4 linked regions of the Homo sapiens genome follow. The protein of the gene in region 1 interacts with the protein of each later gene in a pairwise test. Each region holds a gene or a part of one and is shown on either strand. Other genes may lie near its edges.

Region 1 (7,023 bases):
CTTTCATTCTTTTTTTGCTTTGTACAGTGCCCAGTACCCAATTAGTACAAATAGTAGATTAATTAACTAATTAATTAGTGAGTGAATAAATGTCATTTCATTCATTGGTCCTAACTGAAGTTATTACTGGTTTTAGTTTCCTTTACATAGAAACTAAATTTTGCTTTTCATGTTTTTCTCTTTCAGCTTTGTCCAAAAGCAATAAACCAATCCACACTATTATTCTAAACCCTCATGTACATCTGGTAGGGGATGATGCCGCCTGCATAGCATATATTAGGCTCACACAGTACATGGATGGCAGTGGAATGCCAAAGACAATGCAGTCAGAAGAGACTCGTGTGTGGCACCGCCGGGATGGAAAGTGGCAGAATGTTCATTTTCATCGCTCGGGGTCACCAACAGTACCCATCAAGTAAATATTTCCAGGCTGTCAGCTTCTTTGTTAATACACCCATGGTCAGCTCCTTCTACTTATTCCATTGTTAATAGCATGGTATATGTTATTTAACGCTAGTAGTTGGTTACACTGATGAAAATAAATGCCTTCACGGGAAAGGTTTATGATTCTCTGGAAAGATCAATCAGATCAGCCATTTGTGGGTTGAAACTTGCTATAGAGCAGTATATGATAGGTTTAGACAGGACGAGAGACTACGTGATCAAAATCTCACAGGGTTAAATCTAGAGGACTTGTATAATAAGGCAAAATATTTGTGACTTCATCTTCTCAATTGACAGAAGAAGGGGATATCAGAGGAAAACATAGGGAGGAGTTTCTAAAATGGCCAATATATTATCAGGAGTTTCATTTCATAGATGATCCCCTAAAGCTCAGTTAGAGAGACAGCATTTAAAAGGCCATTGTCAGGTAGTGCAATGTCATTCTCACCTCACCACTCTACCTCAGATATCATTTGCTTTTCCAGTCAGCGATTAGGCACATATTTATTGTGAATCACCTAGGTGCTTAATCTGTGCCAGATTCAACACAAAGTACAAGATATTGCTTTCAAGAAACATGTATTCTCATTTAGCCAATCATTGATTCTAAAGAAAAAAATGATATAATAAAGTTTATCATCAACTTCAGAATACAGTAGAGTTAATGAACAGTGTAGTAAACTGTTTATAACAGTTTGGAAGTACACTTTGTATATAAGATAGAATTTTGGACAAAATCTTAAATGATGAGTAGAATTTAGAGACATAGACTGAAAAAGCAAAGGAGGATGGATAGTCCAAGCTAAATGAGCATCATGAAGAAAAGTACAATATCAGGATTTAGTTTAATATGATAGAACATTATTGGTAAGGAAGGCCGGTTACAACTAAAGAGGAATAATTGAAAATAGGCTTATTGGTAAAGTGGAGTGAGATGAAAACAAGAAGAGTTTAAACTCAGTGTAGAAGTTGGGTCCACTGTTGATCTCTTTCCAAATTCTCTCACCAGGATCACCTGTTAATATTTGAGATTTGGAATGGGGGTTCATACAAACAGCCATTCAACTCACTCCAGAGAATCCATCATGATTTCTTAGTTTGGTAGCATACCACAGTGGTTTTCAGAGGCCTTCTGTATAGCCTTAATAATTATATATCACTGTTAGATTTGTAAAAAGTGGGTCAACAGGGACAAAAATCAAACCAAACCAAACAATAGGCTGAAATTTATTCCCAAAACCATAGCTATGTAATTAAGAGAAAAACACAAGAGGAATATGAAGATAATGAAGACACCCGTTTTTGTGTGTTTTTCACCCCAAAGAGGTACAGCACAAATCGCCAGTTAATATAGAAGGGGTTACATTCATACAGTACCAGGGGTTTAGGTTTTTTTGCAGTTCCCTGAAGTGTTTATGGGATGAAGCCTATTCAAGAAAACTTCATTTTATGCCAGGTGGCTTAAATGGGGCTTCTCTTAATAGGCCACCCTGTATTCCAAATGGGAAAGAAAACTTCTCAGGAGGCACCTCTTTGTGGCAAAACATCTAAGGCCTGAAAACCATTCACATATGGGTCTTGTAAGTAACATCCTGCTCCGTGATACTTTGTGACTGGAGCTGAATGAAAAGCTGCATGGCTGTTTTCCTTCCTTTTGAGGATATTTTTTATTGCATAATATTCAATGAAAAACGCACAAGGTCTTTGAAAATTCATAGCAATTTTGCATGAGCTTTTGAATCTAACATTCAGCCCTATTTGGTAGCATAATCCTTATTTTAAAGGTAATAAACACTGAAAAGAATTTTTTCCAACATGTGGATTGTGTCATGTTAGAATCCTGAAGTTTTCACATCAAAAGTAAATTATGTCTGGGTCAGTTCAGATAACTCTCAATTATCCGGACTTAATTTATATTAAGCTTTAGAATCCTTTGGTGTCTTAACCATTCTTTCAAGAGGTTGCAGTTCTGTAAGCAGCTGGCTATGGCGAATGTGTAAATCAATTTGCTGTGCCTGACTGAGTATAATGGTACTTGACCATGAGGACAGGCCACAGGAGGAAGTCAAGCTGAAATTTAAAACTCACAAAATGGGTAATTCCAGAGGATAATTGAAAGTTGACTGTAATTAACTTCATGCTTTTGTTGTTGTTTTTAATTAATTGTTTCTTAGACTTGGGTTACAAGCATTCAGATATGTATGGTGCTGTTGTGAATATTTGCCTCATTCAGAGAACTAAACCTTATCAGAGCTTTTAACAAATAGTGCTCCCAGCTGTTGCTTTCAGCAAAGGAGATCTCCAATTAAAGAGAGTAATCATGTTCTCTCTACTTTCGAGACTATATTCCTTGTTAAATTGACTTCTAGGTTTCATTTCCCAAGGAATCTAACAATAATAACAGAAGCTAAGGATGAACTTGAATTTTAAGTCTATTTCAACAAAAGGATTATATTCATTTACTAATTTGTCCAGTAAACAGGAATGCTTAAGATGTATACTTAGATTTAATAATGTGACTGAAGACTGTGTCTCTGTCTCTTTATTTTTAGCTTAGCTTTGTGTGAAAAAATAATTAATACTGATCTTCTAATTTAATACTCTCTTTGTGTAACATTGTATGTTTCTTCTTGTAATGATCACAAGCAAACATCTCTTATACATAGTGTTTTCAATCTATTTGTTAGCCAAGTTATAAAACTGTAGCCTAGTCAAATCTATGGCAAAGCAATTTGATGATATTTTGTAAAACAATATAATTTATTTCTTCCTCCCCCTTTCTCCTTTCAGCTAAATTTCAACAGTGCCACTTCTGCATTCTCTGTTCTCAAGGCACCTGGATGGTGACCCTGGGCCGTCCTCTCCTCCTCTTCATGCATGTTTCTGAGTGCATGAAGTTGTGAAGGTCCTACATGTAATGCATATGTGATGCATCATCTTATCATATATTCCTTCCTATACATTGTTTACACTTCAACTACGGGGATGTTCCACACAAACTTAAATTACTGTTGGCAAAACAATAGGGGGAGATTAGACAAAAAAAAAAATCCACAATATTCCAAGTACAACTCTTCATCAAGTTTCTCTGTTAATGCCAAGATTTAACAGACTTAAGAACTATTGTTCTCTGAATGACAGTTGTAAGAGAAATGTAAATTTTTTAGAACTCTTTGCTGTTAATCTGTTTTGGTTTGTTTGGTTTTTTTTTTTTTTTTTAAGGTAAAAAAAAAATACACCTTCAGTTTCCTGGTGTGATCCTGGTTAAAATGGATGATTTTTCATTGAAAGTTTTGCTGATTAACAATTAAAGTGGGATGATATGTGGGCAAAATCACTTATGAAAGTAGAAGCAAGAATCAGTTGGTTTGCTACCACATAAAGCCATGCTGTTTTTGGTCAAACTGTGTAAACTGGAAAAATTCACATCATTTCTGAGTTTAATCACTTTAGGATATATTCACATTGTTTTGGTGAATTTGCTGAATTGAATTGTTTTTCTTTCTCAAATCTGTGATCTCTTTTCTTTATCCTGTTTCTTTGTTCCTTTCGTTTGCTTTCTTATTTTTCTTTTGTTCCATTCTTTTCTTACTTTTTTCCCTTTTCCTTTTTTGGGGAGGCTGGCTAGTAGTGTGTGAGAAAAGAATAGAAGTGAAATTTGCATAATGAATGTAAAAGGGAAATAAAAGTCTTTTGAAGGTAGCTATACTAGCACTTTTGATCATCTTCAGGGCCCACAAAAATGTTGTCAAGATTTTAAAGGTTTATAATTCTGCTTAAGCTCTAGTTTGGACTTAGGTATCCTAACTATGTTGGAGGTATTTGCATTGTTTAAAGTTAGGATAAAAGCAAGTTCCTCCTGTGACTGCAACGTCTTACTGATTGGGACAGTTGCCAGGAGGATACCAACTTGATAGCAGAGGGGGTTTTATGCAAACGCACTCACCTCCGCCTTGGGGAATGAAAGGGTCACTTCTGCATCATCACTAGCTAGTTTTCTAGTGTTAGAGAGGCTTACAAATGTTTGCCATTCTCATAAGTGTTTTGAACTTGATCTTTGTGACTTGTGCTTTTTTAGCTTCTCTCTTGAATCAGAGTATCATTGTCTTCCTCCAAGGAGTTAGAATTTCCCAGTTTAAAACAAAAAGGGAAATGTCCTAGGTTTTCTTTGTGCTTCTCATTTTTCCTTTGTTGATTCAATTCCTGTGATTTTTGTTCTCTTCCCTGAAGTGCTTTACAGTGCATGGAATCTCCATCATTGTTATTTTAACGATAGTAATTCACAGTCCTCAGAAGCCTATTTTTAAAGCAGAAGCAAAAAAGAAAAACAAAATAACAAAAACAACCCTTCCTCTTTTCTCTCATCTCACCTCTCTGTGTTGATTACTAATCATCTTAGATATTATTGCTAGTGGATGTATGGTAGATGGGTTGAAGCTTTTCTGATAATTATTACACAATTTAAAACAACATATATATTTAAAATAAATATATACAGTAAATATATTGAGCCATGTTAACCTGCCAATGAGATCTGTGAAAAAATAATGGCCTCATTTTTCTCTTTTTAATTTCTTTTACCCTTTTGTGAAGCAGCTATACGTGGCATACATGTATTTAAAGAAAAAAAAATAGATGTAGAGTGTTTTTTTTACACTTTTAACTTAGCATGTGGTGTTGAAGTATTACTGTAGATCAAGTTTGTCTTCCGCACTAAGATGTGAGGAAATTGTGATTTGTTCTCTCCACCACAAATGAATTACACATTTATTATCTTCTATCATTTTGAAACACTGCAGTTTACCATGGGACACTGTATATATTTCTTGCCATAATGGTAAAGGACTGATTGATATATTTAAGAGTTAATAAATTTGTGATTTCTGCTGACAGTGCGTCCATCTTTATTTCTTCAGAAGAGGTACTGTATGTATGCCTGCATAGTGCTGGCCAGTGTCAAGGGCAGTGTGTCCTACTCTGGTCTCATTTAGTACATAACAATTTGCACTTGGTGAGAATGGCAAGTTAATTGTTCTCTGTGAGCAAAACAATGGTCTCTTCTGGGAAAATGTTGCTGAGAACAATATAGTTAACAACTAAGACTCCTAAAAGCTTCTCTAAACTGTACCCTCCAATCCAGCCTTCACATGGCTGCTTTTTTTTTTTTTTTTTAATACGAACCTGTCCTTGTAACACTTTGATGTTATCATTTCTGGGATACAGGCAAGCACCCCAGCTCCTGCTACTCCCCAGCTTGAACTTGAGCATACATGGATGCTCAGCTTCTTTTGATTTGCTAAAAACATCACACTTGCTCACATGCCTGTTTATGCTGTTCATGTTGTTTATGTTTCTTACCTAGAATAAATAGTCTCTTCCCCTACTTCTTTTCCCGACTTCTTACTTTTTCCTAAGATTCAGTGTACAGCATCATGCTCCACAGCAAACCTTCCTAGGCCCTATTCTGGGCTTGCCTTCCCTCTCAAAACCTACATAATAGATTGTATTTACCTCTCCTGTCAACCACATTGTTTTGAAAATATATTTCTATTTGTGTCTCCTCTACTGCAGTATAATGTCTCCATGGGCAAGAACTGTGTATTCATCATTGCATTCCTAAACCCAAACCAAGGCCAGGAATGGAGATATCATTGATAAATAGTTGTTGAATTGAGGCCAAGCCCTTTTGATAACAGAAGCCTCAAGGGGTACCCAGATAGTCCTTGTTTTAATGATGGGTTCTCTCACCACTGTCTTGATGCTCTGAGCAAGTTACCTCTTCCCTCTGACCCTCAGTTTCCATATTTGTAAAATGAGAATAAACATACCAACTTAATAAAGATATTGTGAGGATTAATGGGTACAGAGTGACTAGAATGATATTTGATAGAAATTAAATGGTAGCAGTATAACTATTCTGATCACTGACATTAATATTCCTATTGTTATTATTCTTTGCTCACGAGGGTATACAACTCTTGTTTTGCTGTTGGGCTGCCCTCTTTATGTAGGTTTACTGTTAATGCTGAGGATATACTCGGACTCAAATGTCTCAGCAGAAGGCTGAGAGACACCAAATGAAGTGGTCATCTAGCTGAATGTAGGAAAAATGAAATGTAGTAGCAAATCAGTATATTCTAAGGAAATTTTCAAGGAATATTAATCTTCACCCAAATTTTGAATTTTTATGTAAAAAATTATAATTTAAGGGTAAACATAGATGACACAGCTTTCGAGTGATTTCATTGAATAAAATTCTACTGACTTCTATGAACCTTTCATGGCTCTGTGGTCTTTTTATCAGATTTTTTAAAGGTGAGAATGTACAAAAAGATTACAATGAAGATCAGCGTACTAGACCATGTGTCCATGAACTGAACAACAGCTGTCATAAACCACCCTAACCTGAGAAAGCAGCAGGAAGCATTTACAGCATTCCTGCTTTTCTCTCAGACAAAACCAATTCTCAGAAGAGAGCTAGAATGTTCTCCTGCAGACTGGAGTAGGAAAAGTTGATAACAGATTAAGCAGTAATTGTACTCCAGAAGGATTTGCATTTAGGCTTTTGCTGCTTTACAA
Region 2 (7,023 bases), on another chromosome or scaffold:
GAAATGAGTCTGGGCCAGTGATTTAAACTCTAAGCCTCAGTTTCCCTATATGTTGTGTGCGGCTGACTCTTCTCTCCATACGGTGGGTGTGGCTGGGCCCAATCAAACTGCCCCCTCTTGGTTCCCTTTCCTTGTAGGCTGCATGCAGGGCATGGTGCCCTACCTGCCTGAGCTGATCCCGCACCTGATCCAGTGCCTGTCGGATAAGAAGGCCTTGGTCCGCTCCATCGCCTGCTGGACGCTGAGCCGCTATGCCCACTGGGTGGTCAGCCAGCCACCCGACATGCACCTCAAGCCCCTGATGACAGAGCTGCTCAAACGCATCCTGGATGGCAACAAGAGGGTACAGGAGGCGGCCTGCAGGTGACCCTGGACCCCTGATCCCACAGCCCCCACTCTCCCCCGGCCACCCTCTGGGAAGTGATGACACCTGTGACTGTTGATGTGGAACTGATTTATCGCGTATTCGTACTGGCTGATCCTGAGTTGCCCTCCCCAACTGCCCATGGCCCAGTGTCACCTGCCATGGTCCACTGAGCCCCCGCTTCATCCTCCCTCCCACCAGTGCTTTTGCCACCCTGGAGGAAGAGGCCTGCACGGAGCTGGTGCCCTACCTCAGCTACATCCTGGACACCCTTGTCTTTGCCTTTGGGAAATACCAGCACAAGAACCTGCTCATCCTCTATGACGCCATTGGCACCCTGGCCGACTCTGTAGGCCACCACCTCAACCAGCCGGTGAGACCCCAGAGCGGCTCCCGCCTCCCGATCCCCGTGCCCCTGGGCATCCAGTGACCTGGTGGCAACCCCGTGTTGCACGCCAGGGACGTGGCCGTGACCTCGACAGGCAGACAGACAGACCCGGCCCCGCCCTCGCCCTGCTCCCAGTCTAGTGGGGGAGAAAGACAGTTATGAGACAGCGTGGTAAGTGCTGTGCTTCGGGAACCAGGAGGTGGTAACCCAGGCTCCCGGGGGGTGGGGTGGGGCGGGCGGTGCTTGGACAGGTGAGAAGAATGAAGGCCTCGAGGTCTGGCCAGATGGCAGGCCTTTCAGGGTCCCATGAGCCACGGTGAGGCGCTCAGGCCTCATCACTCGGGCAACAGGTACCTGAGTCACAGTCTGCCACCCCGACCCAGGGAGCGCCCATTTCGTGCTCCCTCTCCAGGAATACATCCAGAAGCTGATGCCCCCACTGATCCAGAAGTGGAATGAGCTCAAGGACGAAGACAAGGACCTCTTCCCCCTGCTGGAGGTGAGTGGGCTCCTGCCCCTCACCCGAAACCCATCCTGCCCACCCTGCCTGAGTTCTCCCCACCTGCCTTCCTCCCTGCCAGTGTCTGTCATCGGTGGCCACCGCCCTGCAGAGTGGCTTCCTGCCTTACTGTGAGCCCGTCTACCAGCGCTGTGTCACCCTGGTGCAGAAGACACTGGCTCAGGCCATGGTGAGCAACCCTAGGCCCGTCACCTGTGCTTCTGCATTGGCCTGCCTCGGGCCTGCTCCACTTACCCGTGCCCCTGTCGGCATCTGTGTCTAGATGTACACCCAGCACCCTGAGCAGTATGAGGCTCCCGACAAGGACTTCATGATCGTAGCACTGGATCTGCTCAGCGGCCTGGCCGAGGGCCTGGGTGGTCACGTGGAGCAGCTGGTGGCCCGCAGCAACATCATGACATTGCTGTTCCAGTGCATGCAGGTGGGTGGGGACCCTGGACAGTGATGACACCCAGCAGCCTGCGTGGGCTGCCCCTGGTGGGGAGTCAGGGCCTGGTTGTGCCCAAAGGAAATCAGGGAAAAGGTGCTGTTCTAATTATTTTAAAGAGTAATCCTGGAGGCCGAGGCAGGATTGCTTGAGCCCAGGAGTTTGAGACCAGCCTGGGCAACATAGTGAAACCCCAGTTCTAAAATTAAAAAAAAAAATTTTTTTTAAAGCAAACAGTATTGAAAATAGAAAATGTGAGGCCAGGTGCTCACGCCTATAATCCAGCACTTTGGGAGGCTGTGGCAGGTGAATCACTTGAGGTCAGGAGTTTGAGAGCAGCTTGGCCAACACGGTGAAATCCTGTCTCTACGAAAAATACAAAAATTAGCCAGGCATGGTGGTAGGCGCCTGTAATCCCAGCTACTTGGAAGGCTGAGGCAGGAGAATTGCTTGAACCCAGGAGGCAGAGGTTGCAGTGAGCTGAGATCATGCCACTGCACTCCAGCCTGGGCAATAAACTGAGACTCTGTCTTCAAAAAAAAAGAAAGAAAAGAAAATAGAAAATGTGAAAGCCCAAGTCCCTGCCCCAGCACAGTTGGCTCTCTGTATCTGTGGGTTCTACATCCCAAGATTCAAGTAACCTCAGATTGAAAATACTCAGAGGAAAAATTACATCTGTACTGAACGCATACAGAAGTTTGTTCTTGTTATTATTCCCTAAACAATACAGTATAACAACTATTCCCATACTGTTGACATTGTATTAGATATAAGTGATTTAGAGATGATGCTAAGTGTACAGGAGAATGTGCATAGGTGCATATGCAAACACTATGCCCCCCCCACCGCCCCCCACCTGTTTTTTGAGACAGAGTCTCACTCTGTCACCCAGGCTGGAGTGCAATGGTGTGATCTCGGCTCACTGCAACCTTCACCTCCAGGGTTCAAGCAGTTCTCCTGCCTTAGCCTCTCAAGAAGCTGGGACTACAGGCGTGTCCCACTATGCCTGGCTAATTTTATTGTATTTTTAGTAAAGACAGGGTTTTGCCATGTTGGCCAGGCTGGTCTCAAACTCCTGACCTCAAGTGATCTGCCTGCCTCGGCCTGCCAAAGTGCTGGAGATTACAGGCATGAACCACTGCGCCTGGCCCTAACACTGTGCCACTTTATATCAAGGACTTGCACATCCGTGGATTTTTATATCTGCAGGGACCTGGAAAGAATCCCCCACGGACACTGAGGGATGACCGTTGGGGCACTGCCATCTCCCATTTGCAGATGTGGGCTGGAGGCTAGGGAGGTTAAGGAACAGCTAGGAGCTCTAGAACTGGAAAGTGGCAGAGGCTGGACATGCACCAGGGACTGTGCCCCCTGAGCTGTCCTGGTTAGAAGGAGGGGAGCCTAGCCACACTGATCTTACTTGAATCCCCAGGACTCGATGCCTGAGGTCCGGCAGAGCTCCTTTGCCCTCCTGGGAGACCTCACCAAAGCCTGCTTCATCCATGTCAAGCCCTGTATCGGTACGACACTCGCCTTGTCCCTAACCCATGACCCCAGCCCCGGCCTCAAGTGATGGAGAGCAATACCCGGGGATGACTGTGACCACATTGGGATGTATTCGTACTGTCTGATGGGGCCTGCTGGACTAGGTCCTGCAGCTTACCCTGGCTGGCCCTCCTTCTCAGCACCCCTGTTTCTCCCCACCAGCCGAGTTCATGCCCATTCTGGGCACCAACCTGAACCCAGAGTTCATCTCCGTCTGCAACAACGCCACCTGGGCCATTGGTGAAATCTGCATGCAGATGGGTGAGTGCCCTGCAAGTGGCAACACGCGCCCCCCATTAGCCTGTTCTCAACCTGGGGGCGGGAGCCTAGCTCTGACTGACAGCTTCCTTCAAGGCAAGTCTCTTGGGGGTCGTCAGGGGTGGAGCCAAGCAGAAAGGTCATTTGTGATTGGCTTCTCTAAAGAGGAGGGATAGGAGGGCTGTTCTGATTGGACCGTTTTGTGTAGTTGGCTAAAAGACTCATTCGGATTGGTTGGGTGACTTTGGCTTTTTTTTTCCTTTGACTTGGGCAGCGTGTTGTCACCTTAGCGACTCCAGAGAAGCCTCTGTTGTTTGGAGGGTGTGGGTCTGTCCCTGGTTGGCCAGGGATTCTGGGTGGGGATTAGCCGGAGAAGGTCTTTTGTTTCCTCACTGGTAGTGGTTGGCCAGTCTCTAGTTGGAACTGGGGCGAGTAGTGAGTGAGGTGGGGCGGCCCCCTGGCCCCTGTGGGTGGCGGGGGCTGTGCAGGGCTCTGACTGGGTGCTCCCCCAGGGGCAGAGATGCAGCCTTATGTGCAGATGGTCCTCAACAACCTGGTGGAAATCATTAACCGACCCAACACACCCAAGACACTGCTGGAAAACACAGGTGGGCACCTGGCCCGGCTGCTGCCTGCACCCCTGCCTGCCTTCTGGAGGTGGGGTTCTGGGCTGGGAAGGGCATCAGAAAGAGCCTTGTCAAGGAACCAAGGAGGGTGTCTGGAAGTACCTGGAAGGGGTCACTGGGAGAAGCCCCAAGAAAGATGCAGCCTCAGGCTGGGTGCAGTGGCTCATGCCTGTAATCTCAGCACTTTGGGAGGCAGATCACCTGAAGTCAGGAGTTCGAGACCAGCCTGGCCAACATGGTGAAACCCCATCTCTACTAAAAAATACAAAAATTAGCCGGGGGTAATGGCACGTGCCTGCAATCCCAGCTACTCGGGAGGCTGAGGCAGGTTGCAATGAGCCAAGATCATGCCACTGCACTCCAGCCTGGGCAACAGAGCAAGACTCCATCTCAAAAACAAAACAAAACAAAAAAAAACAAAAAGGAAAGGGAAAGGAAAGAAAGAAAGATAGATGCAGAGAGACCTGGGAAGTGACTCAGGTGTGATGAGGAGGACCCCTGGCTGGGCCAAGCTTGGGGGACCAGGGTGGCTGCAGTAGCCATTCCCTTGGGGCTCATGGGGCGGGGCTTGGTGCCTTGTGCCAGAGGCCCCGCCACGTACCGTCCCGGGGCCGCTCGGGGTTGCAGGTCGCCTGACGAGTCCCTCTGCCATTCCAGCCATCACCATCGGCCGCTTGGGCTACGTGTGCCCCCAGGAGGTGGCACCCATGCTGCAGCAGTTCATCCGGCCTTGGTGTGTGTCCACGTGTCAAGCCTGCTGTGTGGTGGGCGGGACTGGCCCAACCCCCTCCCTCGCCTGTGCATTTCCAGCCCCATCTGCCTACTGACTCCCTGCCCTGCCCCACCCCCACAGATGCATGTCCCAGGCCCACTCACTGATCCCCAGTGACCCAGCCCTCCACAGATGCATGCCCAGCCTGCCCTCTGACCTCCAGCTGCTCACCTTCCCACAGGTGCACGTCCCTCAGGAACATCAGGGACAACGAGGAGAAGGACTCAGCCTTCCGCGGCATCTGCATGATGATCGGTGTCAACCCGGGGGGCGTTGTGCAGGTTGGGGCAGCTGGGCTCTGAGGGCAGGCGCGGGCGCTGGGCTCGGGCGGCCCCTCACCTGGGATCCGTCACGTTTCAGGACTTTATTTTCTTCTGCGATGCTGTAGCCTCCTGGGTGAGCCCGAAGGATGACCTTCGGGACATGTTTTATAAGGTGAGGCTCTGTCTGGGCCCTGATCTAGTTCCGGGAGCAGGCAGGGGTGAGACCATCTGGTAACAATGGGGCCTGGGGATGGGGGAAGAGGCGCACTCCCCTTGTTCTGCCCCTGCCTACCCCTCACCACCACCCTCCCCACAGATTCTCCACGGCTTCAAAGACCAAGTTGGGGAAGATAACTGGCAGCAGTTCTCTGAGCAATTCCCGCCGCTGCTCAAGGAGAGGCTGGCGGCTTTCTATGGGGTCTAGGTGATCATGGAGACTGCCAGGTAAGGAGACTGCAGCTGGCAAGTCAGCACTGTCTTGGGGGCCGAAAGGTCCCAGGCCATGACCTTCCTCCTCCCCCTGCAGGTTTCTGTCTGCGTCGTCGTCGGAGGGATTACTGGGGAGTGCGCTGCATCCGGAAGTCGCTGTGCCCTGGTTGAGGGGGGTTAGGGAGGAGTGAGTGGGACTCAAATCCAGATGCCTTCCCCGTCCGTCCGTCCGTCCGTCCATCCGTCCACTTGCCCTCCTGGCAGGTGGGTGGGGCCACCATGCTCATCCTACAAACGGGGAGGTGGGGGGGACTTCTGGTGGGCAAGGGCCCCTGGGCTCTAATAGGGTCATCTCTGGCAGCCCACTTGGGCCAGCTACGTGGGAGGGAGGAATTACACAGCTGACCGAATCCGGCTTCGGATGAGGTGAGGGAGGAGCAGGTCAGGAGGGGGGCCCTCGTAGGGACGCGTACACTCACACGGACACACATGGCCACACGCATGTGCGGGTGCCATAACCGGCGAGGCTGGGCCAGCCGCTCCACCATTTCCCCGACTGCATGGAGACAGTAGAATTAGTGAACCCCTGAGTTAACCCGTAAGGCCTTCCGTGTAACCTGCATCTAGAGTTTAAGAAGCTTCTGCTGTTTTGCCGGAATTGGCGGTGACTGGGGAGGGCTGGGTGGGTGGGGGGCCTCAGGCGGGATCTCGGGGCGGGGGGAGGAGGATGGTGACCTTGGGAGTCGCCCTGTCAGCACGCACATGCTTGGGACCCACTCCACACACTCCCTGCCAGCTTTGTTGCAGCCTCAGCTGGTGGTGTCTCCGTCCTTATCCTAGCCTAGCTCGCAGGGTGAGAACCACTGGAGTGGCTGGGGCTGGCCAGAGGTCACCGTTTCTCCTTCCTGTGTGCTCCAGTGGCTTTTGAAGACACTGGGTTGGGACCTTTTTCCTGAAGAGAGCTGGGTGTAGCCAGAGCTACTGGCACCTACCCCGAGCATCTCTCTCTGTAAGCAGCTTCAGGGGCAGTCCGTTTCTCTGTGCTTCTGAAACCCCCTTCTCACGTTTCAGGCCCCAGTTTTAACTCAAGGCCTGGGGCAGGGGCGTTTAATTGATGATGACAGAGGACACAGGTTTTTGCCAGCAAAAAGGAAAACCAAGGCTTGGTGGAAGGGAAAGGTGGTGTGTCCCCTGTTCCCTATTCCATCTCCCTGGGACTTCCTGCTCATCATAGTACCCAGTGAGCCCAGAGATCCTACTAGACTGGGTCAGCAATTCTAGAGAACCTTCCGGAATAGTCTGGGAACATGGTCAAGGTGGAAGGGGCTCCCCTAGAGAGGGTGGGGGTGTAGTTACTTCCCAGTTGGCCAGAAAACTGGGCCTTGCAGACCCCCTTAGCATTTTTTCCCTTTTTTTCCTTCCCTGCTTTCT
Region 3 (7,756 bases), on another chromosome or scaffold:
CTGATCATAAAGGGCATGCTGAGGAATTTGGAATCTTGGGGGAACCAGCATATATTCAAGTAACAATATGCAGAATGGACCTGAGAAGGAAGAAAGTTGACAAGTAATTTGAATGCCACAAAGTGAAAATGAAGCAAGTTTGCAACTATTTCAGTAGAGAAAGAAGGCCATATTCAAGAGATGCTTTTAAGGCAGATGGAATAGACAGTGATATCGATAGGATATAAGTAGTGAGGAGGAAAAAAGAATTAAGGATAACACCCAGATTTTTAGCTTGAGAAACTGCTGAACCATTAACCAGAGCATGTTTCAAAGGCAAGGAAGGCAGGGCAGGCTGGGTGTGGTGCCTCATGCCTGTAATCCCAGCACTTTGGGAGGCTGAGGCAGGTGGATCATCTGAGGTCAGGAGTTCGACACCACCCTGGCCAACATGGTGAAACCCTGTCTCTACTAAAAATACAATATTAGCTGGGCGTGGTGGTGTGTGCCTGTAGTTCCAGCTACTTGGGAGGCTGCAGCAGGAGAATCGCTTGAACCCGGCTGGCGGAGGTTGCAGTGAGCCGAGTTTGCGCCACTGCACTCCAGCCTGGGTGACAGAGCAAGACTCCATCTCAAAAAAAAAAAAAAAAAAAAGAGAGAGAGAGAGGAAGGAAGGAAGGAAGGAAGGAAGGGGGAGGGGGAGGGAAGGAAGAAAGGAAAGGAAGGGCAGGCACAGTGGCTAACACCTGTAATCCCAGCACTTTGGGAGGCTGAGGTGGGAGGATCACTTGATGCCAGTATTTCAAGACCAGCCTAGGCAACACAGGGAGACCCCAATTCTACAGAAAAATTTTTAAAAATGAGGTGGGTGCTCACTTTGGCAGCACATATACTAAGACTGAAATGATACAGAGCGTAGCATGGCCCCTGCACAGGGATGACTTGCAAATTTGTGAAGCGTTCCATAAAAAAGGAAAATAAAAAATAATAAAAATAAAAATAAAAATTAGCTGGGTGCAGCGTCCCACACCTGCAGTCCTAGTTACTATGGAGGCTGAGAGGATTTGAGCTCAGGAGTTCAAGGTTACAGTAAGCTATGATCACACCACTGCATTCCAGCCTGGGTGACAGAGTGAGACCCTGTTGGGGAGGTGGGGGTGGGGGCAGTAGGGGAGGAACGTGTGTAGTATGTGACAAATTGAAATTAACATGTGCTTCATGTAAGATGTCTACATGGTACCAATGTACCTTAGGCAGTCAGAGGTAAGGATTTGGAAATCACTGACATAGGGTTAATCATTAAAGTCAAGGTAGTGGAGAACCTCACTGTATAAGATCAGAGGGCCAGGAGGACCAAGGTTTAAATGCTCTTCAGGCATTCCCCAACGCTACTGATTTTGCCTGAAACTAATTGTATACCTATTGTTTCACAATCTCCAGAGTATAAGTTTTTTGGAGAACATGAAATCAAGAACCCTGGGTGTTTTAGGAGGGAAAAGACCACTGTATTAGTTCAGGTCTCCGGAGAGGTGGTCAGAAAACTAAGAGCCGGTGCTCAGTATATAACCATTTAATTCTGTTTTTCATCTTCTTTAAAGACAACTCATGACGAGAATCAAGGGATTCAGGTGAACTGGCATTTCCAGCAGGTTTAAACAAAAGTACATCCCTCCCCCAACTTGTTTTCCAAGTTTATTGTATTTCCACTATAAAATGATTTCAAGTTCTTTACACTTATTTGGAAACAAAAATCATACACAAGAAAAAAATTAAGAAGAGTTAACGAAAAAACATTCATCCAAAGAAAATTATGACTAATCCCTCTAGACTCTTCTATGCATAGTTTGGCTGTCAAACTTTTTCAGTTATACTGTGCAACTTTGTATCACGGTTTTCATCTAACATTATATATTAGCATTTCCCTATGTTATTTAAAAGTTTAATAAATTAGTTTTAGAGGCCACTTCACATACACTCAGTGAAGTGACATAATGTACTGAACTGCTCCTAGCTGTACCCAACTTTATCCCGCTACCCGCTATAAATAAAGCTCGGACCGAGGTCTTAAGGCTTAAAGCATTTCCTGACTTTGGATGACTTCCTTGGGACATATTCCCAGGAGTGTTATTCACGAGTCACGGTCATAATCCCTCATTTACACCCACCCCTAGCTCGATCCTCATCCCGCGACCCCTCACACGCGGCCCGCCCCATTCTCCTCATCCTCTCTGCACGCCTGAATCTCCTCCTTCCCGCCCCCTACCCACCAAGAGCCGATCCACTTCCCTCCTGACCCCCTACAGCCTCCCCACACCCGCCAGGCCCGGCAGCAGTGGAGATGAAATACCTTAGGTCTCACTGCCTCACAAAAACACCAATCTCTCTGTGGCCGCCCAACATCACGCCGCCGCACATAAGAAGTTCTGGGCAGCCACCGGAAGCACCGGCCCTCAGTCCTCTGATAGGTGGGCGGTGATATCGGTCCTCTGATAGGTGGGTGGTCCTCTGATAGGATAGGCACGCTCCGAGATGGCCCCGTCTATTGGCTTTTGAATATGCACATTAGCAGAGGGTTCGTCCCACTGGCCAATAAGCTCTGGCTCTGCCGCACGGATCGCTGGGAGTGGTAGTCCCCGTAAAACCACCGACCGCAAGCCCGCCACATTTTCCCTCCCTTAAGCACTTGAGCTCTTTCCCCACTTCTCGTCGGTTCTCTTGTCTAAGGAGTCCAGGAGCCCTAGGATCACCACGGCTTTTTAACCTTCTTTAAAATCTGATAAAATCTCTCAGGAAAATGTTCTTATCTGTACACAAAATACTGTGCATTGAGCTGAAGCCGCTGCATGGGCCTGTCCCAGCTACAAATCCCTGTTCTACCCCGACCCTAAGCGTGCCTGCTCTGGCCGCAGCCTATGGATTTAGTGCGTCCCTTAGGCTTCTTCAGACCTATGAGGAATTCCAGGTCCTGACCCTCACAGTACAGTCGACAATCATCTTTCTTTAACAACACAGCCAGAACACCTTCAGGGATGCAGACAACCTCATCTGGGACCTAAGCATCCGGGAGAGTGGGGATGAGGAAATGGAGGAAGAACACCCTTGGGGCTCATTCTGGACCAGTTTGCCAGGCTTTTCTCCCCATGCCTATCTTCCAGTGCCACTCAGGAGAATCATATCTTCACATCAGTTTTTATGTTTTTCTTTTTCTTTTCTTTTCTTTTTTTAAAAATAAAGATGGCATGCCTGTAATCCCAGCACTTTGGGAGGCTGAGGCGGGCGGATAACCTGAGGTCGGGAGTTCGAGACCAGCCTGGCCAACATGGTGAAACCCTGTCTCTACTAAAAATTTAAAAATTAGCCGAACGCTGGTGTCTCACGCCTGTAATCCCAGCTACTTGGGAGACTGAGGCACGAGAATCGCTTGAACCTGGGAGGCGGAGGTTGCAGTGAGCCGAGATTGTGCCACTGCACTCCATCCTGGCGACAGAGTGAAGATTCTGTCTCAAAAAAAAAAAAAAAAAAAAGGAGAGAGAGAGAGACGGGATCTCGCTATGTTACCCAGGCTGGTCTTGAACTTCTAGGCTCAAGCAATCCTCCTGCCTCGGTCTCCTACAGTGTTGAGATTACAGGTGTGAGCCATTGTTCCAAAAATTGATATACTTGGCCTCACATCAATTTTTGGAACAATGCAGGTAATAATGAGGGGGAAAAAATTTTAAAAGTCCCAATTACCCTTTAAACAAATATTACCTCCTCCAAAAAATATTTTTCTAGATTCCTGAATGTATTTTTTGGTGGAGGAGGAACTCAAAGTAGAATTCATTTACATATTCATTCATTCATTCCACAGCACTAATCACTCCATGCAGTAACTGTGTGTCCCCGTCCCTCTCAGACTTAGTACCTGGAAGACAGCCAACCTGTCTTAATTCTATTGGTATCCCCAGGGCGCATTTCTTTGCCTTGAAAATTGAGTACCCAATAAATGTGCGTCGAGCAGAACTACACGAGATGGAGAACAGGGGTTTAGGGGTATGGGGGAGAGTCAGCAATTACTGGTGTCCTCCCTCCCTCCCCCAGCTCTGCTCCTACAGATCCAGGACGCCTAGCGAGGGTAGGAACCTCTTCTGTGCTTCCGCAACGCTCTGAACTGCACGGCACTGAGCGCATCTAATTAAAGTGATGGTTTCATTAGATAGCAACACAGCGAGACCCCGTTTCTACAAAAAATAAAAATAAAAAATAAAAGATTAGCTGGGCGTGGTTGCTCGCGCCTCTAGTCCCAGCTACTTGGGTGGAGGCTGAGGAAGAAGGATCGCTTGAGCCTAAGAGTTCGAGGTTGCTGTGAGCTATGATCGCGCCACTGGACTCCAGCCTGGGCGACAGAGCAAGATCCTCTGTCTAAAATAAAAATAAAAATAAAATGATGGTTTAATCGCCGGCCTTTGCCCCTTCTGCCCCCCACCCCCCACAAGTCTGTAGGACTGGGTTGACTTCCCAGAGCTTACTACAGATTAGATGCTAAATAAATGTCTATTGGACGGATGCGCGAATGAATGGATGGATGGAGGATGTGGTTGTGCTTACCACGCTCCCTGGTCAGTGGGTTAATGTCGTCAGGCGGGGCCAGGCTCGCTAACAGCCGGGCGGGGTCCCTTCCCCCGGGCCCCGCCCCGGCCGACCCCACCTTTCCGCGCGGCTCCGCCCCGCCGCCCCCTTGCCAGTGGCCCCTCCCCGCGCAGGTCCCGACTCCAGCCGCACCTCCTCCGGCTCTGCAGTGGCGGCGAGGAGGCGAGCCGGAGCGACGGCGGGGCTGGGGCCGGAGCCGAGCCGGGGTCGGGCAGCAGCAGGGACCCCCCAGAGGCGGGGCCTGTGGGACCGCTATGGGCGTGGAGATCGAGACCATCTCCCCCGGAGACGGTACCGGGCTCCCTCCGGAGCCAGGGGAGGGGAGGGGTCCCGGGGCGGAGCCCGGAGGGCGGGGGTCTGATTCGGAGGTGGCGTGGAGGGTGCTGAAGGGTCGGGGGGCTGGATGGGGAAGGCAGGCGGAGACGCCGGACGGGATTCTTGGGGGTCTAGGAGACCATCCTCCGCCATCCTCTTCCGCGCTCACCTAGGGGAATGTAGGCGGCAGCTCGGAGGCGGGGGTCTGCGGCCCGGAGGCGGGGGTCTGCGGCCCGCCACCGCCCCGGGCTTCTCCTGTCGCGGCTGCAGTCGTTCGGTTATCCGCTGCTGCTGATACCCCAGCCTGGGTTTCGGCTTCGCTTTCCCTGCCCTACTCGGCGAGCTCTGGAAAGCAGGACCTGCTCTCGGATACCCGCTGCTCGGGGACCTCCTCCTAGCGCGTCCCCCGCCGGGCCTCCCCTCGGTCGCTTCCCTGCGGGCCGGGCTGTGAGCGGCTGTGGGGACAGACCCAGGCTGGGGAAGGGGGAAGCGCTCCCTTGCCCGCTTCCGGATCTCGCTTTATCCTGCCGCCGCTTTCAGACTCCCTGGCCACCCTGTCCACTCCCATGGCCTCCACATTGAAGCTTCTAAGCCCAGCCCTGCGACCTACGGCCGAACCTCTCCCTGGACGTCCCAGGGTGCTCCCTGGTCAGCAAGTCCAAAACAGAACTCTCGCTTCCCACCTTCTCTCCTAAGTGATCCTCTTTATCCCCCTTCCGTGTCTCACTTTCCCAAGTCCTTGTATTACTGGGTCTGGGTGTGCAAGGAATAGCCATTTCTTTATTTCTTGAAATTTAATTAATACCAAAGCCCCCATTGTCTGCAGGGTTTGATGGGCAAACTTCATATCAGATATTATTAATATGAACAGCTCCCCTCCCCAGGAAATTGGATAACTTCTTGGCTCCAGGCCATCTTCCTTGTCCAATCCCAGCCACTACTTCAGATATCCCCTGGAGTACAGGCTTCTTTGCCCACGCAGGAAACATTGCTGCTGGGTCCCAGAAAGCATCTCCCTGAGGCCTTTTCATCCCTCAGCAGCCCCTGAGCTAATCTCCCCATCTTCAGTCTCTCCTCCCTGCTTTCAATCTCGTCCCCAATCTCATATTCACTCCCTTTCTATATCATAGCCTGAAGACTCTTCTTAAAATGCAGTGGCTCACGCCTGTAATCCCAGCACTTTGGGAGGCTGAGGCGGGCGGATCACAAGGTCAGGAGTTCGAGACCAGCCTGACCAACATGTTGAAACCCCGTCTCTACTAAAAATACAAAAATTAGCTGGGCATGGTGGTACGCACCTGTAATCCCAGCTACTCGGGAGGCTGGGGCAGGAGAATCACTTGACCCTGGGAGCCAGAGGTTGCAGTGAGCTGAGATTGTGCCATTGCACTCCAGCCTGGGTGACAGAGCAAGACTCTATCTCAAAAAAAAAAAAGAAAAAAAATGCATGTTTGACTATGCCCCTCCCTCAGGCAGAAGATGTTTTAATGATTCTTCCCTCTCCCCCAGGAGGGGCCTTTGGTGCTATGGTCTATTCTCATCTTCCACACTAGAGCTTCATCTCTCACCACCTGTCCTAAGCCCACCACTAACTTTTTCCTCCAGCTTTCCCAAGCTGCCTGCAAGTTGTCAAACACACCACTCGTTCAGCAAATATTTATTGAACGTGTGTGCTAGGCCCTAAGGTGACACAGTTGAAACAGACAGGGTTCCCGCTATTGCTGGACTGAGGGCCTTTGAACATGTTACATGTTGTTCCCTCTTCCCAGATGGTGTTTTTTCACTTCCTCTGGCAAACTCTTACTTGTCTTTCAAGACCTGGCTTCACCATTCTCTCCTCTATGATGTTTTCCTTGACTTCTGTGGTCAGTTAGCTGCTCCCTCCTCCAGGATCCCATAGAGTCCTCTAAATATCGGCTCTGTGGTTAGGCTTCCTTAGGCTTTGTATCCAGCCCCGTAGCTTTAAATTCCAGCCAAATTTATACCTCCAGTGCAGACTCTTCATCTGCCTACTTGCAATATAAACTCAGATGTCTAATAGGCATCTCAAGATTGCCACCCGCACAAATCTGTTCCTCCCGTCTTCCCTATCTCAGGAAATAGTTGCACTATTCATCCAGTTGCCCAAACAGAAAACCCAAGCATCGTTCTTGTTGTCTCCTTTGTCCTCATCCTGGACCCCATTTCCAGTCTGATTGCATGACCTGTCAGCTCCGCTTCGAAAATATGTCTCCAATCTTTCACTCTCTTCTCTGCTGCCACCACCTTAAATCAAGCTATCATTGATTTCTTGTCTGGATTATTGCAACAGACGCCTAACCGTCCATCCTACACATAGCAGCCAGAGTGATGTTATAAAATCTTAATTCAGATTATGTCATTCTCTGGCTTAAAACCCTCCAGTGGTTTCCTATTGCACTTAGTATTAAATCCGGCTCTTCAAGCCCTGCATGATCCATGTCCTTCCCACCTCTCTCCTCCCTCCCTTCTTTCCAGCACCTAGCCTCCTTGCTCACTGCAAATGTGTTGATTCTGTGCACTTGTTACTCCTTTCCCAAGTGCTATTTCCCAGTATTTTGCTCATCCTTCAAGTCCCAGCTCCAGGGGGCACCTTCTCCAAGAGGCCATCCTGGACCACTCTGTCTGAAATGGCCTGTCCCACTGCATCTCCCTTTAATACATCATTGTGTGTATTTTCTTTAGAGTATTCATCATAATCCATAATCATTTTGTATATTTAAGTATTGTCTCTGTCCATTAGAATATAAACTCCAGGGCGGGTTTGGTGGCTCATGCCTATAATCTCAGCACTTTGGGAGGTTGAGGTGGGAGA
Region 4 (7,023 bases), on another chromosome or scaffold:
TTTATAGATACTGTATACTTAGGCTACACTAAATTTATAAAAAAATTTTTTTCATCAATAATAAATTAACCCTTGGCCAGGCGCGGTGGCTCATGCCTGTAATCCCAGCACTTTGGGAGGCCGAGGCAGGCAGATCACTTGAGGTCAGGAGTTTGAGACCAGCCTGGCCAACATGGTGAAACCCCATCTCTACTAAAAATTTAAAAAATTAGCCAGGCGTGGTGGTGGGCACTTGTAATCCCAGCTACTCAGGAGGCTGAGGCTGGAGAATCGCTTGAACCTGGGAGACAGAGGTTGCAGTGGGCCGAGATTGTGCCACCGCACTCCAGCCTGGGCGACAGAGTGAGACTCTGTCTCAAAATAATAATAATAATAATAATAATAAATTAACTCTTGCTTACTGTAACTTTTTTACTTTATAAACTAAATTTTTTTTAACTCTTGGACTCCTTTGTAATAACACCTAGCTTAAAACACAAATTGTACAGCTCATTAAAAAATTTTTTCTTTATATCTTTATAAGCTTTTTTCTATTCTTAAAATTACTTTATTTTTTTTTTTTAGCTTTTAAACTTTTTTGTTAAAAGCTAAGACACAAACACATATTAGCCTAGACCTACACAGGGTCAAGATCATCAATATCACTGTCTTCCACCTTTTTACATCTTGTCCCACTTAGAAGGTCTTCAAGGGCAGTAACACACATGGAGTTGCCATCTCCTAGGATAACAATGTCTTCTTCTGGAATCCCTCCCGAAGGACCTGCCTGAGGCTGTTTTACAGTAAATTTTTTTTTTTTGTAAGTAGAAGGAATATACTCTAAATTAATGATAAAAAGTGTAGTATAGTAAATACATAACCCAGTAATATAGTTGCTTATGATCAATTATTGTATACTGTAGATAATTGTTTGTGTTGTCCTTTTATATGACTGGCAGTGCAGTAGGTTTGTTTATACCAGCATCACCACAAGCATGTGAGTAACGCAACATGCAGTTGTTCATCTCTATTATACTCATAGGATCACTGTCATACATGCAGTCCATCATTGACCAAAACATCATTGTAGCACATAACTATAGTTCTAACATTCATGGAGCTTTTTCGTTTTTTTGAGACGGAGTCTTGCTCTGTCGCCCAGGCTGAAGTGCGGTGGTGTGATCTCAGCTCACTGCAACCTCCACCCCCTGGGTTCAAGCGATCCTCCAGCCTCAGCCTCCCGAGTAGCTGGGATCACAGGTGCCCACCACCACACACGGCTAATTTTTGTCTTTTTAGTGGAGATGGATTTCACCATGTTGGCCAGGCTGGTCTCAAACTCCTGACCTCAGGTGATCTACCCGCCTTGGCCTCCCAAAGTGCTGCGATTACAGGTGTGAGCCACCGCGCCCGGCCTCAAGGAGCTTTTTGATCCATTTCTATGGGCTCCCCACCAAGGACACTTCAGTTAAACATTTGGCTGAAGTGTTTGACACCAAAGCACTTGCAGATAGGATTGGGGCAGAAGCCAAGTTGACAGTGTCACCTGTCCCTCATTTCACCCTATCGCACTAAAGTTCTCCCACACTTGCATTTCAGTTTCAATACTTTTTCTCATGTGCCACAAAGGAGGCTGTGAAGTTATCATTTCCAAAGTCTCTGCTGGGCACAGTGACTCACGCCTGTAATCACAGCACTTTGGAGGCTGAGGCAGGACGATAGCTTGAGCCCAGAGGTTCGAGCAGCCTGGGCAACACAATGAGACCCTGTTTCTATCTGTTCTGAAAACAAAACAAAACAGAAGTCTCTTGAGGAAGGGTAAAATTTAAAACATGTAAGACATTAGGATAGCAAAAAAATCTCGGTCTCCAGCACTGTCCTAACTTTCAGGGTTTTCTGTTATCCTAGTCCCTTGTGATAACACACCACATAGCAACTTCTCTTGGGTTACAGATCTTCCTCCTTCCTGACATTGGGAGCATGAGTGATATGGGCTCACATACCCTGGCTGCCTCCTTAACAGTCAGTATTAATTTGGAAGTAAAATGAGAAATGTAACACTTAAATTGAAGCTTATTAAATCCACAGAGGTAATGGCAATTCCAATAAAGCCAAAAGACCTTTCTCATTTTCTTTCTTTTTTCTTTTTTTTGAGACAGGGTCTCACTCTGTTGCCCAGCCTGGAGTGCAGTGGCACAATCATGGCTCACTGCAACCTCAACCTCCCCAGCTCAGGTTATCCTCCTGCCTTAGCCTCGTGAGTAGCTGGGACCACAGGTGTGCACCACCACACCCAGCTAAGTTTTAAATTATTTGTAGAGACGGGGTCTCCCTGTGTTGGGATTACAAGCATGAGCCACTGTGCCTGGCCACCTGCCTTATTTTCATTACATTTTTAGGATGGAGAGACTAGAAGAAAGTTTCTAGAATGTTCTGTTGAATCAAGTCATGGAGTCTAAGTCAAGGTTCTTAATGATGTTTCAGAACTTACAATGGATGGGGAAATCTGGATGTAGGAACCTAAATGGATAGCTCTATTTTCACCTTTTCTGTTGGATCGCTTAGAGCAGTTTCCTCCCCTGGTGTTTAACCATTATGAGATGGAAAGTGTGTTTTCATCTGCATTGAATCCTTGGCTGTAGGCACTGGTATCTGAGTTAGTTGAGCCAGGGAGAGGGCTACAGGAAGGCAAGCATATTAAGAATTGCTTCCTGGCTGGGCGCGGTGGCTCATGCCTGTAATCCCAGCACTTTGTGAGGCCGAGGCGGGCGGATCACAAGGTCAGGAGTTCGAGACCAGCCTGGCCAACATGGTGAAACCACATCTCTACTAAAAATACAAAAAAATAGTCGGGCGTGGTGGTGGGCACCTGTGATCCCAGCTACTGGGGAGGCTGAGGCAGGAGAATCGCTTGAACCTGGGAGGCGGAAGTTGCAGTGAGCTGAGATCGTGCCATTGCACTCCAGCCTGGATGACATGAGCAAGACTCCATATCAAAAAAAAAAAAAAAAAAAAAAAGGAAGTGCTTCCTTCTCCACTGCTTTAGCTTTTAGCTTAGCCTTATGTTCATTTAGCAAAAACTGTTATGAAGACAGATACAGTAGAATGAAGCTGGCATCAGCTGGTTTCTTGGTGACAGTTTTGGACAAAGGGAGGTCGGGGGGCTTTTGAAAAAACAGGGTCAGTTGAATATTGGGCTATTCATATCACATAGGCATCTCCTGCTTTGTCTCTCTTTCTACATGCTTTAACCCTTTCCTCTCTCCCTCCTCCTCCCACAGGAGGAAATCCTGAGCAGCCTGTTCAACTAGAAAATCAATGACTGGTGGAGACTTAGTTGCTAGACCGGCCTTTGTAAACAAAATCTATCTTTGGAAGAGAATGAGGAAACTTATGAGAGCCGTAGCAACCAAGTGTTGTTGTAGCAGCCTACATTTATTGAATACTATTTTGTTCACTGCTCTATTTTCATAAGCACTCTGTATGTGGACGATTTTAATCCTCTAAACAGTGTTATGAAGTAGATAATATTAATAGATGAGGAAACTGAGACAAAGATTGGTAACTTGTTCAAGGGCACAGTGGAGCCAAGATTCAAACTCGGGCAGTTTGTGTCCAGAGTACACCCTTTGAAGACCACCAAGCTTATAACTTTTCTCATATATAATAATTTTTGCCCTGAATTACAGAAAGATCTGAAGCCAGGATCGCTCAGGAGACGATGGAGAGAGCTCCTAGCAGAGTTGGGACGGTTCTCAGTGTGCCCCAATGTTGCAGTTGTTTTTCAGCATATTCTGTCTTTCTCCTCAGTCAAGGACCAACCTACCTTTTCTTTTCTAGTGCTGAGGAATGTAAACAAGTTTGCTGGGCCTTGCGAGACTTCACCAGGTTGTTTCGATAGCTCACACTCCTGCACTGTGCCTGTCACCCAGGTGAGGATACATAGTTCCCAGCTTTTGTCCGGACTGTCGGACTGTTGGGGATGCCTGGGAATGGGGATAGGTTTTAATGCCTATCATGGGACCAGTCTTATAGCTAGAGTCAGGGAAGGACTCAGCAGTTTAACTGTGGTGAACAGCTGGAATATACAGGGCCCGGATTTTCTTGGGCCTGGGCAGCCAGTAATTGTCAGTGTCTTTGGGGTACCATTTTCACCTCCATAAGAAAGTAACTGTTACACAGTGCATTGAAACATTTTCTTCCCCCTTCCCCTTACAGACACTTCTAAGATGGTAAGTGTACATGGCAACAAACAAATAAGTATTTTTAACCTGGCCACTTTGGCGAAAACAACCTCAAGTTGACTGTTATATGTGGTGCCAGTCTCCTAAAACTGACCCTCCAGATGTAATGAGCAAAGAGCTTATTCTTATCACTTTTATGACCTGAATGCTGAAGTGCCAGGTTTTGACCAGGGCAGGAGGTATGAATTGAATATCCCTTATCCGAAATGCTTGGGATTTCGGAGGAAAAAACACTTTCAGAAGTGTTTTTCAATTTTGGATTTTTTGGGATTTTGGAATATTTGCAGAATGCACACCAGTTGAGCATTCCTAATCCAAAAATCCAAAATCCAAAATGCTCCAATGCTCATTCGCTTGAGGGTCATATCAGCGTTCAAAAAGTTTCAGCTGTTAGGGATGCTTGGCCCTTACAGGAGAGGAGGAGCATCTTTGGCTCCCGATGAGCACTTTTCTCCACGTGCTTTCCGTCTCCTGGTTCTGAAGCAAAGCAAGAAGCTTAGCTGAAAGGAGTGGGTAGTAGAATTTGGGTGCCAGTTTCTTGATGGAGAGAAGAAAGGTAGCTCTCCTCTAAGCCCACCCTTTGATGTCTCAAGGTGAGTTTCTTCTCCCAGGAGGCAATTCTTGATGAATCTGTAGCACTCACTGGTAGTTTCTGTGTTAAATGCATTCATAGGTAAAAGTGATGTTCAGCAGTGCCTTGCCACACCCAAAATCATTTCTCAACTTTGATTGTTTTAATGAGTAATAATATCATTTGGGATGTCCTGGTTTTGCATGGTGTCTGGGTTAGCTGACATTGATACACCTCATAAGGTTGCTCATGGACAGCTGTAGGTGTTCATGGTTAACTTTTATTGTGCCCTTACTGTGTGTCAGGGCACTGTTTTAAGTGTTTTAGATGTATTAACTAAGATAATCCTCATCTGCTTTTCTGGATTTGTTACTATTTTTCCCATTTTACAAATGAGGAAATTGAGGTTCAACAATGTTTAACAATTTGCCTGACAGTTATTCGTGGAGCCAGAATTCACATGTAGATATTCTGGTACCAGAGTCCTCACTTTGAACCACTCCGCTTAATACAGTATCCTTTCGATAGCATCTAAATTGGTGTTTTGTTTTGTTTTGTTTTCAACTGTTATTAGTAGGCAAAGCCTTCTTTCAAAATAAAATCGACATGAAGCCTGTGGGATTTAGCAGACTGAGGCAAAGCTTCCCTGGTTGCTTTGGAATGGGAGGCCTGGACCTGCTGGCTCTTTGCCCTCCTGACACATCATCCCTTGTTTCCACAGCACACTCAGCATTGGAAGCACACTGCAGACGGTGTCTCATTAAAGCAGTAGCTCCCTTGAACCCACAAGTTAAAACGCCAGACTTTTATTTATTTGTTTATTTTTTCTGAGTTCTTATTGGCAGACTTCAGAATGAGGTACCTGAGGAAATATAGAAACCTCTGCCTTAAGGTTGATTTTACTAAATGCTCTATTTTCTGGTGCAGTTATTGACTGTCTTATCTCTTTTGTCAGGAATGTCTTTTTTAATTAGAAGACAGGAAGAAAACAAAAACCAGACTGTGTCCCACAATCAGAAACCTCCGTTGTGGCAGAGGGGCCTTCACCGCCACCAGGGTGTCCCGCCAGACAGGGAGAGACTCCAGCCTTCTGAGGCCATCCTGAGGAGTTCCTGTTTGGGGGTGTGAGGGAAAATCAGCGCGGATTTTAAAAAGATGGCTGTGGCCTGCCCGGCGTGGTGGGAGGGGAGCTGGTTTCCTGGTGAACTTTCTAAAAGGAAAAATAATTTTAAGTAAAGAAAAAAGAAAAAAAAGGAAGACTAAACAGAAACCAGAACTGAAACATTCACCTGGTAGCAAATGACACATGCACGCACACACACATACACGCACAAGCGCCAGTGCGCACGTGTACACAGAAAAACAAAAGGACAAGCTTTCTGTGAAACAAAATATTTACTTAGGGATAATGTGGGGATTCACATGAATTAAATAGCTGCAATTGGAAGAAGAGGGTCAGGGTCATTTGTTCAGGTTTTCTATTGTTTTGTCCTCTCTTTCCTCTCCTACCCTTCCTTCTCTTTCTCTCTCCCCTCCTTTTAAATGCAAATGAGTAGAAATTTCTTCTACCTTCCCCAGCTGTTTCTTCCCACCTTTAGAGTTGTTTAGACAAGGAGGAGTAAGCAAGGAACTTGTTCTGCTTTCTATCGTGGTCACATTGGTGATGCTCGGGACCTGCCAGGGTCAGAATTTATGGATATCTGAACCCTGACCCCGTTCATTCTCTCAGTCCACTTCCAATCCACATCAGTTTGTTGTCTGCCTTGGAGAGAAGAGCCAAAACTGGGGTGGGCGGGTGGGTGGGGAGTGCAGGATATAAATGTGTAAGTTTTTGTTTTTTAAGGTTTTTTTCTTAGTGAATTATTCACCCACAGACATGAGAGAAAAAAAGAGGGAGGGTGTGTGGAGAAAAAATGTTTACAGGGCTAACAAGGGATGATGTGTCATTTAGTATGTTACTAAAAAGTGTGGAAATGACTTGATTTTAAGGGGAGGGTGAGGCCGAAGAGGGAAGCCCAAAGCAGATCTTAATGTTTCAAAGGAGTGCAGCCCTTCACAGCCATCAGATATGAGGGCACTGTTCTGTCTGGTGTTGTAGCCATCTCAAGAACAAATCAACAGCAACAAAAGAGAAAGAATAAATTTTTAAAATTTAACCAGTGTTTCTTTGTTTTTACTTTCATTCACTGCCTTGTAGCTCGGAAATGGTTCAGCTAGACTAGCTATGGA

Evidence for each region.
Region 2: the proteins of CAMK2D (region 1) and TNPO2 interact in binary tests that used the Homo sapiens proteins (3 or more experiments, as listed by UniProt).
Region 3: the proteins of CAMK2D (region 1) and FKBP1B interact in binary tests that used the Homo sapiens proteins (3 or more experiments, as listed by UniProt).
Region 4: the proteins of CAMK2D (region 1) and TNPO3 interact in binary tests that used the Homo sapiens proteins (3 or more experiments, as listed by UniProt).

What each region holds. Positions count from the first base shown.
Region 1 is NC_000004.12:113,450,727-113,457,749, reverse strand, and holds the end of CAMK2D (calcium/calmodulin-dependent protein kinase type II subunit delta), read left to right. Parts: intron 1-186; coding exon 187-415; coding exon of another isoform or gene 416-419; exon of another isoform or gene 420-562; intron 563-1,928; coding exon 1,929-1,995; 3' UTR 1,996-2,024; intron 2,025-3,234; coding exon of another isoform or gene 3,235-3,238; 3' UTR 3,239-6,718; downstream 6,719-7,023. UniProt on the Homo sapiens protein: Calcium/calmodulin-dependent protein kinase involved in the regulation of Ca(2+) homeostatis and excitation-contraction coupling (ECC) in heart by targeting ion channels, transporters and accessory proteins involved in Ca(2+) influx into the myocyte, Ca(2+) release from the sarcoplasmic reticulum (SR), SR Ca(2+) uptake and Na(+) and K(+) channel transport.
Region 2 is NC_000019.10:12,699,910-12,706,932, reverse strand, and holds part of TNPO2 (transportin-2), read left to right. Parts: intron 1-137; coding exon 138-363; intron 364-414; exon of another isoform or gene 415-484; intron 485-565; coding exon 566-737; intron 738-1,164; coding exon 1,165-1,251; intron 1,252-1,333; coding exon 1,334-1,441; intron 1,442-1,534; coding exon 1,535-1,693; intron 1,694-3,131; coding exon 3,132-3,219; intron 3,220-3,261; exon of another isoform or gene 3,262-3,336; intron 3,337-3,406; coding exon 3,407-3,505; intron 3,506-4,014; coding exon 4,015-4,110; intron 4,111-4,755; coding exon 4,756-4,861; intron 4,862-5,081; coding exon 5,082-5,181; intron 5,182-5,260; coding exon 5,261-5,335; intron 5,336-5,479; coding exon 5,480-5,587; 3' UTR 5,588-5,607; intron 5,608-5,689; 3' UTR 5,690-7,023. UniProt on the Homo sapiens protein: Probably functions in nuclear protein import as nuclear transport receptor. Serves as receptor for nuclear localization signals (NLS) in cargo substrates.
Region 3 is NC_000002.12:24,044,988-24,052,743, forward strand, and holds the start of FKBP1B (peptidyl-prolyl cis-trans isomerase FKBP1B), read left to right. Parts: upstream 1-4,753; 5' UTR 4,754-4,862; coding exon 4,863-4,899; intron 4,900-7,756. UniProt on the Homo sapiens protein: Has the potential to contribute to the immunosuppressive and toxic effects of FK506 and rapamycin. PPIases accelerate the folding of proteins. It catalyzes the cis-trans isomerization of proline imidic peptide bonds in oligopeptides.
Region 4 is NC_000007.14:128,954,112-128,961,134, reverse strand, and holds the end of TNPO3 (transportin-3), read left to right. Parts: intron 1-3,668; exon of another isoform or gene 3,669-3,819; coding exon 3,820-3,880; 3' UTR 3,881-3,911; intron 3,912-5,749; coding exon of another isoform or gene 5,750-5,768; 3' UTR 5,769-6,950; downstream 6,951-7,023. UniProt on the Homo sapiens protein: Importin, which transports target proteins into the nucleus. Specifically mediates the nuclear import of splicing factor serine/arginine (SR) proteins, such as RBM4, SFRS1 and SFRS2, by recognizing phosphorylated SR domains.